2 separate regions of the Homo sapiens genome follow, and region 2 is linked to region 1. A link means that fine-mapping ties the variant in region 1 to the expression of a gene that starts in the linked region. Tissue or cell type: whole blood. Region 1 holds a variant in brackets; the other region holds the start of a gene. All regions are shown on one strand. Distances are from middle to middle.

What was found. PIP is the estimated chance that this variant, and not a neighbour inherited with it, causes the effect.
Region 2: EVC starts here. The variant in region 1 is fine-mapped to the expression of EVC in whole blood (TOPMed, PIP above 0.99).

The regions. Positions count from the first base shown.
Region 1 is chr4:5,729,597-5,734,596 of GRCh38, forward strand. EVC (EvC ciliary complex subunit 1) reads left to right here. Exons shown (of 21, transcript NM_153717.3): 4 at 1,829-2,061; 5 at 3,755-3,839. Among named protein-coding and RNA genes, the nearest start is that of EVC, 21 kb to the left of the region's middle. The variant C/G (reference allele first, on the strand shown) is at 2,403.
Region 2 is chr4:5,708,587-5,713,642 of GRCh38, forward strand. It overlaps EVC (EvC ciliary complex subunit 1), which reads left to right and starts at 2,615. Exons shown (of 21, transcript NM_153717.3): 1 at 2,615-2,968. The coding sequence starts at 2,795. It also overlaps a transcript of EVC2 not described here. RefSeq lists enhancers at 1-532, 3,294-3,363, 3,949-4,258 and silencers at 13-62, 2,574-2,623, 2,674-2,823.

The DNA.
Region 1 (5,000 bases):
CCCAGGGACACGAGGTAACAGCACAGTAGGACAGCTCCCTCTCTGCCTTTTTAACACTAATACAAACACTGATACCGACTCAGTTCTGAGCGCTAATCCTCATTCACAGAGCCCTGGACTAATAATGCCAGCAGCTGGCACTTACTGAACACTTATGTGGACAGGGCCAGTGTTGTGTTAAGTATTTGTCATGCATCAGGCGTTTCAACTTGGTGTTATGCCTATCAGGTAAATAATGTCTCCACTTTACACGTAAGGAAACTGAGGCCCAGAGAGGCGAGTGACCTGAGGTCACGTGACAGGAAGTGGCAGAGCCAGAGTCAGACCCCAACACCTGGCTATGGTTACACCTTCCATGGCGCTTCCAGGAGCCCTCAGCCTGGGAGGTGCTTTGTGCAAAAAAGTTTCCTAGTGAAATAAGTTTGGGAAAATGTGGCTTGCTTTCTTGGTATTCAGGATGACGAGCTCTGGAGTCACAGCATCTCAGTCCTAACCCCATCTCAGCCATTCACTGTGTGGCGTTTCCTGACTTCTCCTGCCTCAGTCTGTTTATCTGTCAAATGGGGATGATGGTGCTCCTGCCTCGCCCAGTTGTTTTGGGTGTTACACAAGATAACATACATGAGGGCTCAGAACAGTGCACAACATCTGAGCACTCACAACATGTTAGGATCTTGTCAATTATTATTTGCTTTTGAAGACACCCAAAGCCTATTGGAGGTTCTGAGAATTCCTGCACCAAAGGAATATTTCACCTTGTTTAACACAAGCTTTACCGAACTAATTTTTCCATGGAAACTTTGTGGTGAGCAGTAACTGGCTCAAGGAGCTGTTCCCTGGAACCCACATTGGGAACCACATCCTTCACGTGGTTGAAGGGTGGGACGGGTGGGTGGATGAAGGGCATTTCTCCATCCTCTGGGTAGGCCCTGCGTGGGCCCTGGGGATCACGCCATAGTCAGCAGAGCGTCAGCCCCACCCTGGAGGCCCTCACTGCCTGAGTGGATTGAAATACACCGAGAATGCAGGACAGTGCATGATGAAATAGGCAAGAGGCAGATCCCCAGGGACCTGTGGAGCCAGTATGGGGTCCAGGATCCACGCCTGGAGGAAGGGACGCTTCTGCCCAGCAAACAACAAATGGGGGGTGTTTCAGGTAGGGGGACCAAAGTCTGGAAAGGCCAGAATTATGAAGTCACCAGGAGCGTCTAAGCCAGAGCCACTTCACTGTGGCTCGGGCAGCCAGAGGTGGAGGCTGACATTTGCTGGGCCCTCTAGCCATGCCAGGCCCCAGGCTGTGACCTCCTGTGGGCGTGGTGTGCATGGTGTGCATGGTGTTCCAGCTTCTTGATTAGGAGCGTGGAGCCTGTCGGTGGGCAGAGGGCAGGAGGGTGACTCCTGCTCTGTGCAGGCGAAGGACAGGTGGTTGGCAGGATTCGTGGAGGGAGCAGGCCAGGGGGTCAGCAGCAAGGAGAGAACTGGGTCAGGGCAAGCGGTGGCTATGGAGGAGGTAGGTCAGAGTTGGCAGCTGGGAGGAGGGTGCGCTGGGTGTCCGGGGCACAGATCCAGGTTGGCAGTTTAGGGGAAGGAACCTGGTGCAGAGGGGCTGGCCTTGTGAGGACAAGTGAACTGTGATTCGGGCCTCTGGGCTGTCGATGTGGCAGAACCTGGGACGGAAACTCTGTGGTGTCTGCTGGCACCCTGGCCAGTCTCCTCCAGGCAGACCTTCCTGTGAGCGGCTAGCGTGAATCACTGGTAGAATTATGAATACTAGATCAAATCCCAGAGGCATCACATGGACTGAGTGTGACTCCTACTGCCACCCCAGCCTCTGGCCGATGGCTCCTCCAACCCGTCTCTGCATGAAAACTTAAAGCAGGCTGTTTTGCCACACCAGCCGGTAGAGGCCTCTCCTTCCAGCAGTCTGGGGAGCCTGAGCCAGGGTGAGAAGGACGACTGCAGCTCCTCATCCAGCGTCCACTCGGCCACCAGCGATGACAGGTTTCTCAGCCGCACCTTCCTCCGGGTGAACGCCTTCCCTGAAGTGCTGGCCTGCGAGAGGTAAGGAGAGCGGGCAATGGAGGATGAGGCTTCCAGTCCTCTTGGAGTGGGCCGGGAGTCACATCATTGTCAGAGGAGGAAACAGAGGCCCAGAGAGGTTCAGTGACTCTGCCAGGGACACACAGCGACCCAGCGTCACCATCGGAGCCCCAGAGGCCTTTGTCACTTCCTGTGCTGTATTGCCCAACACTGGGGTTATGGAGTCAGGCCTGAGCCCCGGGGAGAGATGACAGGGAGGCCTCATTTAATCACTGGCGTGCTCCCAGCTACTGGCGAAGTTGATTAAGTGGGTACTTCTGAGTACCGGGCAGAGTGCTAAGCACTTTACAGGGATTGATGAT[C/G]TCATGAGGATTTTGCCCAGTGAGGGGGATCCTGGGACAAGTTCAGCAATCAGTAAATATTAATCAGTGAGTGAATGAATTCCGTTTAACACCCCTATGAAGTTGGTACTGTCATTTCCTCCAGTTCACAAAGAATAAAGGGAAACACAGAGAGGCTGCGTGACTTGCTGGTCACACAGCCGTGAGTGACGGAGCCGGATTTGACCCAACCCAGAGCAGGGCTCCGCACGTGGTGGGGGCTTAAGAAGCTCAGTCTGGCGGGTTCACACACCAGGCCTCAGGCCTCTCTCTGCTCCAAAATTCCGCTGAGTCCAAGAGGTGGGATGATCCAGGGCACAGCCTCTGCTCAGAGTTGCTGCAGAAACACTGGGCTCAGCACCTTGAGCCTGAAAGTGGCCCAGGCAGAAGGGACTTCGTTGAAGAGGGGCCTTCTTGGACTGGCCAGCCCTGGCTTAGAACGGCTTGCTTTCAGCATTTGGGACTTAGAGGATTTGAAACGGTTTGGGTGGGAGAGTCATCATTTAAAATGCATTTGCCTATGAGGGAAAAAAGGTCAAAGACTTTTACACTCTGCCATGTATCTGCCCCCGTTGACCCTATGATGGTCACTTGATTTGTCTGATTCTCTCTTCCCTGAGTCAGTTTCTGCATCTGTAAAATGGGCATGAGAATGTCTCTGCTAAGGCACCGAGGAAAGGTGACACGTGATGATAGACATGAAAATGCTTGAGGTTGGGCACCATGGCTCATGCCTGTAATCCCAACATTTGGGAGGCCAAGGTGGGTGGATTGCTTGAGCTCGGGAGTTTAAGACCAGCCCAGGCAACATAGTGAGACCCCATCTCTAAAATAAAATCCAAAATCAACCGGGTATGGTGGTGCATGCCTGTAGTCCGAGCTACACGGGAGGCTGAGGTGGGAGGATTGCTTGAGCCCGGGAGGTGGAGGCTGCAGTAAGCCGTGATTGTACCACTGCACTCCAGCCTGGGAGACAGAGCAAAACCCTATTTCTAAAAAGATAAGTAAATAAATTTTTTTTTAGAAAATACTCAAAGGAGGAAACGTCATTTTTATTTCTCTCCCTTCCCTCTCTCCATTGGTTTTCTCTTGGAAGTCCCAGGCACCTATGTCTCTGACACCAACTGTTCTCTTATGGCCATTAGTGGGTTTCAAACAGCTCATTTGATCCCTTCTTATAAACCTGGAGTGAGCGTAAGGACCTCAGCATGCTGCAGAATGAGAGTTTGAGGCAGGGTGTGCTGTGGCTTGTACTGATGAGGGACGTGCCAATATTCTTACTCTTCATTTCCGATACCCTGAAAGTCTTTTCCGCTTCTCATTTTATTTTGCAGTGTAGACGTTGACCTGTGTATCTACAGCCTTCACTTAAAAGACCTGCTGCATTTGGACACGGCACTGAGGCAGGAAAAGCATATGGTAGGTGGAGATGTTCGCATTCCCTCCTTTTCATGGGGACAGGAGCTGGGAGACAAGGACTCTGTGTGCAGTGAGTCCCAGAGACCCTTGAGAGGCAGACATCAGTGGAAACAGAGCCGCTGTGAGGTGGGGGAAAGCGGCGCTGTCAGGCATGCAGCCACAAAATGGAAAAGCACTTCACGCCTGTTGGTGGGGCATGGCCTTGACTTCAACCAGAGCTGTAGGGGCCTCAGCAGAAAGATGAGTGCCTCCTCCCGGGCTACACCTCCTGCTGGAGATAGAGATAAAAGATATTTAAAAGAGAACAATATGTTTAAAGGAATGATAATAATGATAAGAATATTTATGAGCATGAATTTTCTTGAGTCTTGCTATGTACGAGGTCCCAGGAGTATTACACTTAAACCTCAGCACAACCCAGAGGGGCGGGTGTCATTATCATGTCCACTCTGCAGGTGAGAAAACTGAGGCACAGGGCAGAGGATTTACCCAAAGTTATAAAGCTGCAGGAGTGGCACTGAGATGAGAAGTTCAGTACCTTTTCATGGGGCCACGTGTTCTCTTGACTGAATGAACAAGAACTCAGAACTGTGGATGTGGGGAAAACAACATTAGTCTCTGCCAGATGCACCTGGCCTCTGATTGAATCAGCCACGGACCTGAGCTATGGGAAGCCAGAGAGAGGAGTCCCACTTTAGCCGCAGAACCCCGGTGGGTTTATTCAGGCATCAAGATGACGGGGGTTAAAAAAAAGTGTTATTTCTCCATAAGGCACATTCTCTGAATTACTGAATGAGGAATGAGACCCTACAGAGAGAAGGCAGATGAGAGAAAGAGGAGAGCTAGAAACAGGTGGACAGACACACAGATATGTCTACAGGGCACTCTTACAAACTGGAGAAGAGCAAGAACATCACGTTGGAGGCCAGGCATGGTGGCTCACGACTATAATATCAGGGTTTGGGAGGCTGAGGTGGGAGGATTGCTTAAGCCCAGGAATTTGAGACCAGCCTGGGCAACATGGCAAAACCCTATCTCTACCAAAAACAAAAACAAACAAACAAACAAACACTTAGCCTGGTGCAGTGGTGTGTGCCTATAGTCCTAGGTACTCAGGAGGCTGAGGTGAGAGGAACACTTGAGTCCAGGAGATGGAGGCTG
Region 2 (5,056 bases), 21 kb before region 1:
CCCGCCGCCGAGCATGCTCAGTGCGAGCCGCCGCCGAAAGTTTTCTGGAACAAACACCCGCATCTGGGGCTTGGCGGGCCAGGAGGTGCCGGACGGGCGTGGGAGGGGGAGAGCGAGTTGGCGCGGCCCAGGCGCCCGGCGGCCAGGCCTGGGTTTGCTTGCGCCCAAACCGAATCAGAGCGGGTCACTCCCCTGCTCCCCGAGGTTACCAGGACCCCAAGGGCCCCTCCGCTACCGCCTACCTGGGTCTGTAAGCCTCAGCTCAGACGCACTTCCCCTGGGAACGGTTTCCTGACACACGGATGTGAATCCAGAGTTTCCCCATCCCCGCTTAGAAAACGGAGAAGCATTTGGAGCGCGGGGCCGGGAGTCCTGGAGCACCCAGAAGGTTCAGGAAAGCTCGGGGAGGAGGGGGTGGCCGCAGAGAAGGAAAAGGACCCTCACTTCCGGTTGCGTTCAGTGCAGACCAGCTGAGCACCCACTGCCCGAGCCTGCTGTGGGTCAGCCCTGGGCCGGCCCGGGTGCCCCTCGCATTCCCAGTGGGAAACAGGCCAGCCGCTGGGCCACCTCTCTGGGGACCTAGAAAGAGGGGAGCTGGTGTCTGAAGTCGCAGCCCTAAGCAAGCTCTCCCTGAACTCTCCGAGGGGACAGGGATTTGCTTTGCCAAGGGACGCAGGAGGAGGAGGAGGAGAAAGACACAAAAAGGGGGACTGGTGGAGCCTTTTGTGTGCTTCCTCATCCCTGCCTAGGTCCTGGGTGACAGCTGACACCTGTTGACGGGGGAGGGCTCCACTCCCGCCAGCCTTCCTGCGGGGCAGGCTGTTAGGCTGTCTATAAAGTCTCAGGCCAGCGAGCCTGGCCCCTGGCAGCCTCTCTCCCCATAACCCAGACCATCCAAGGACAGGCCTTTCCTGACCTAACATGGACAAGGCCATGGGGTTCGAGAAGCTGAGAATTTATAAGCCAAGTTCCCCACACCAGGGGGTACGTGGCAGCTGTCAGGCATGTGACAAGACCACAGGCTAAATGCCAAGCATGTTGCTGGACCGTTGGAGTTGTTTGACAGTCAGTCATTTAAAGGTTAATTTAATAGTCAACAACTTTATGATAAAGTAAAAAGCAAATAACCCTACATTTAAAAAATCTCCTTAGTATTTTTTATGGAGTCAGGGTCTCACTATGTTGCCAAGACTGGTCTTAAACTCCTGGGCTCAGACAATCCTCCACTTGAGCCTCCCAAAGTGCTGGGATTACAGGCGTGAGCAACCACACCTGGCCCAAACACCACATTTTAAAAACTAAAGCCTAAGCATTCATGGAAATGTAAAACAAGAGCGTCAAGTTATTGCCCCCATACATGTCCCCAGGAACCTTGGAGATGCTTCTAAGGTAATATATAAGAAGCTCCACATAGCAGAGAGTTTGCCCTGAAGCCAGACACAGGTGTAAATGAGACAAGAATTCTGCCCCACTCCTTAATTGCAAATGAGTCACCTCTCCTCTCCAGCTGTCAGTTTCTTCATTTATTAAAAAAAGATGAAGAATTTGGATAACAGTTCCCATCTTGCCATGAGGAAATGATGAAACAAACTAGAAACAAGCTGGACATCTAGGCTGAAAGGACAAAGCCCTCCTCTGCTGAAGCAGATCCCCATGGTGTCCCCTAGCCCGGCCCACACAGGGAATTAAGCTCCACAGGGTAGGTGTGTGTGTGTGTGTGCCCCTGAGTGCAAGTGTGCAGTCGTGCATGTGCATGTGTGCTTTACCCAGGCACCCAGGACAAAAGCAAACATCTAGTAGCTACCCCATAAATGTTTGTTTAAAGCAAACACAGTGATGAACTCCTTTAATTTTTTATCACTCTAAACAACTGTGAGATACTCACTAGCCTGGACACTGCCTGGTTTGTGGCTGGCCTATCCCCCAGCCTGCAACACACACACAACAGATTCTCTCCAAGTGCTGAGTAAATGAAGGATGGTGCAGTGTCCTGGTCCTAGTGGGGAGCGGGTGTAAGGGTCTCTTTATCCATTGTCTCAGTGGGGAGTGGGTGTAAGGGTCTCTCTACCCTTGGTCCTAGTGGGGACTAGGTGTAAGGGTCTCTCTACCCATCGTCTCAGTGGGGTCTGGGTGTAAGGATCCCTTTACCCATCCTCCTAGTGGAGACTGAGTGTAACGGTGTCTCCACCCATTGTCTCGACCTTCCCTGGGACAAAATAAGATTAAAACAGGAGTCTTCGCGTGAGCAAGTTCAGAGGCGTGGAGGGCGGTGTGTTCCCGGGAAGGTTGATGGGTAGAGGTTAGGGGCAAGGGCAGGGGGTTGGAATTGCATTGATCCCAGCGTCTTCATCAGGAGGATGGGCGGAGCACCCACCGCAGAGGGTTATTGAGAAAGTTAATGAGATCATTAAGCTAAATGCGTAGCATATTCTAAGCCTCAAAAAACTTAAAGGAGCCTTCTAAGCCTCAGTAAAGTTAAAGGGGTGGAAACCGGGCCCCCCTCCGGAAGGGTCCGGGGCTGGGAGGCGCGTCTGTCTCTGGGCATGCTCAGTGCAGGGGCAGGGCTGGGGCGGGGGTGGCTGAAAGTTTTGAGCGGTGATCCAGGCTCCTCCCTCCGGCTCGGCGAAGCAGGGAAGGGGAGAGAAGCAGGAGTCGGGAGACTGCACAGGCCAGAAAGTCTGCGGAGCGGGCCGCGCCCCTGGCCCGCCCGGGCTCCAAGTCCCGCGTCGCCGCCCTGGCGGGGACGGTGCAGCAGGCGGCGGGATGCGGCGGGGCGGCAGCCTGAGCGCCCCGGATGGCCCGCGGCGGGGCGGCCTGCAAGAGCGACGCGCGGCTGCTGCTGGGGCGGGACGCGCTGCGGCCGGCGCCCGCCCTGCTGGCCCCCGCCGTGCTGCTGGGCGCCGCGCTCGGCCTCGGCCTCGGCCTTTGGCTTGGCTGCCGCGCGGGCCGCCAGCGCACGCGACACCAGGTGGGTCGGCCGAGCAGACAGCGGCGGGGCGGGGAGCGCGGGGCGCGTGGCTTCTGGGTCCTGCGGGCCCGGAGCCCCGGCTCTGCGACTCCTTGAGCCTGGTTGGGAACTTCGCACGCAACCGCTTAGGCGTCGGGTTCCCCTTCTGCTCCAGGAGGGAGGTGGCGGCGTGACTAAAGGGCATTGGCCTGGGGTCCCCTGCGGTGCCTGTTACATCCCACTCCGTTGGGTGATCCTTGACAGCAGCCCAACTGCGCCACGCCTCGGTCTCCTCATCTGCAGCACCAAGGGTTTGGACAGGACGCTGGCCCTGCTCGCCATGGTGGACAGAAGGACGGCTGGGGCTCCCACGCCTGAATGCCTATTCCTGCTTCTGCCTCTTCCATCCTTGCGGTGTGGGTTACGTCGCCTGGCCTGAGTCCCAGCTGCCACATTGGCATTCATTTTTTCATTCACCCCACAGTAAAAGTTTTCAGGCACCTTCTACAGCCAGTCACTGGCCTAGGGACGACATTCATGAGCGGGAGAGACCCTGCCTTGAGGCTGTGAACCTCAAGGAGAAGGACGAATTGCAAGTTTGCAAGTAAACTATCGGTTATGACACCGCATGGGGAGTCTGCGATGGGACGCTGGCAATGCTAGCGTTTATTAAGTGCTGTGTACCAGGCACTGAACTAGACCCTCTCCCTAAATGATCTCAATGAATCTCCACAACAGTTTGTCTCTGCTTTGCAGATGAGGAAACTGAGGCACAGAGAGGTTAAGCAACTTACTAAAGTGACAGAAGTGTCTAACCCCAAAGCCACTGTGTTCTTCATGGATGAGGGTCGGGGTGGCTGCCTGAAGGAGACCAGTGGATGCTTCCTATGCAAGTGGCCCTCATGGAATTGGCTGTGCATGGCAACACCTGGCATATAGCAGGCATTCCATGAATAGTGGTATGGCCACTATTTTAGGTCCTTGCAACTTCTGCCTCTTTGGGGTGGGAGGAGAGTAAAGTCTGCGCGATCAGAAACAAGATGGCGTGGTCTTGCTACCCCCATTTCTGGCCCGTGGGAAGATGAGACAGATCTTGTGCGGTTTCCATGTAGGCACAGGCTCTTTCAGAATATAGGGGAATTTGGTGACTCATGGGGAGCATTACACCGCAAAGAGCTGATGAGGGCTGAAACTGAGATAATGCAAGATGCTCGTAGGTGAGTTGGGGGTTGTCAGATCCTGCTGGTGATTAAGAGACACTAAGAGATGCTGGCTTGTTGCATGGAGAGAGAAAGGGAAGTAACACACAGAGACTTGGCTGGGTGTCCTGTGCAATGTTTATAGACATCTGGTTCTTTATCCTCCAGCCCATGAGGTGGAGGAACTGCCATTATCCCCACTTTACAGTGAGGCAGGGGATGCTCTGCAAGGGTGTTTGTCCAGGGTGCCACGATGAGTAAACAGTGGGACTGAATTTCAACCCTAGTTGGTTTGAACCCCAAAGCTAGAGCCTTAAGTATCTGCTACCTGGTGAGGTGGTGGTTAGTATCCCATTTGCTAGCTGAGTCAGCTGAGGCTTACCGGGATTAACCAAGCCATCTGGGTTTGCACAGCTAGTCAGTTGAGGGTGATGGTGGCTCAGACCAGGGTGGCAGCCATGGAGGGGTCTGTGGCTCAAAGTAGGACTAATAGGATTTTGTTACAGTTTGATGTGATCCTTGCGACAACCTTCTTTCTAATGAGATTCTTTTCCTCCTGTCTCCTCCCTCTAGTTTTTATTTATAAAATGTATGTCAGACAATATGATTCTCCTGATTAAACACCTCCAGTGACTCCTGGCTGCCTGCAAAAGATAATGCCCAGGCTGGGCACTGTGGCTCATGCCTGTCACCCCAGCACTTTGGGAGGCCAAGGCGAGCTGTTCAACTGAGGTCAGGAGTTCGAGACCAGCCTGGCCAATATGGTGAAACCCTGCCTCTACTAAAAATACAAAAATTAGCTGGCATAGTGGCAGGAGCCTGTAATCCCAGCTACTCAGGAGGCTGAGGCAGGAGAATCGCTGGAACCTGGGAGGCGGAGGTTGCAGTGAGCCAAGATCGCACCATTGCA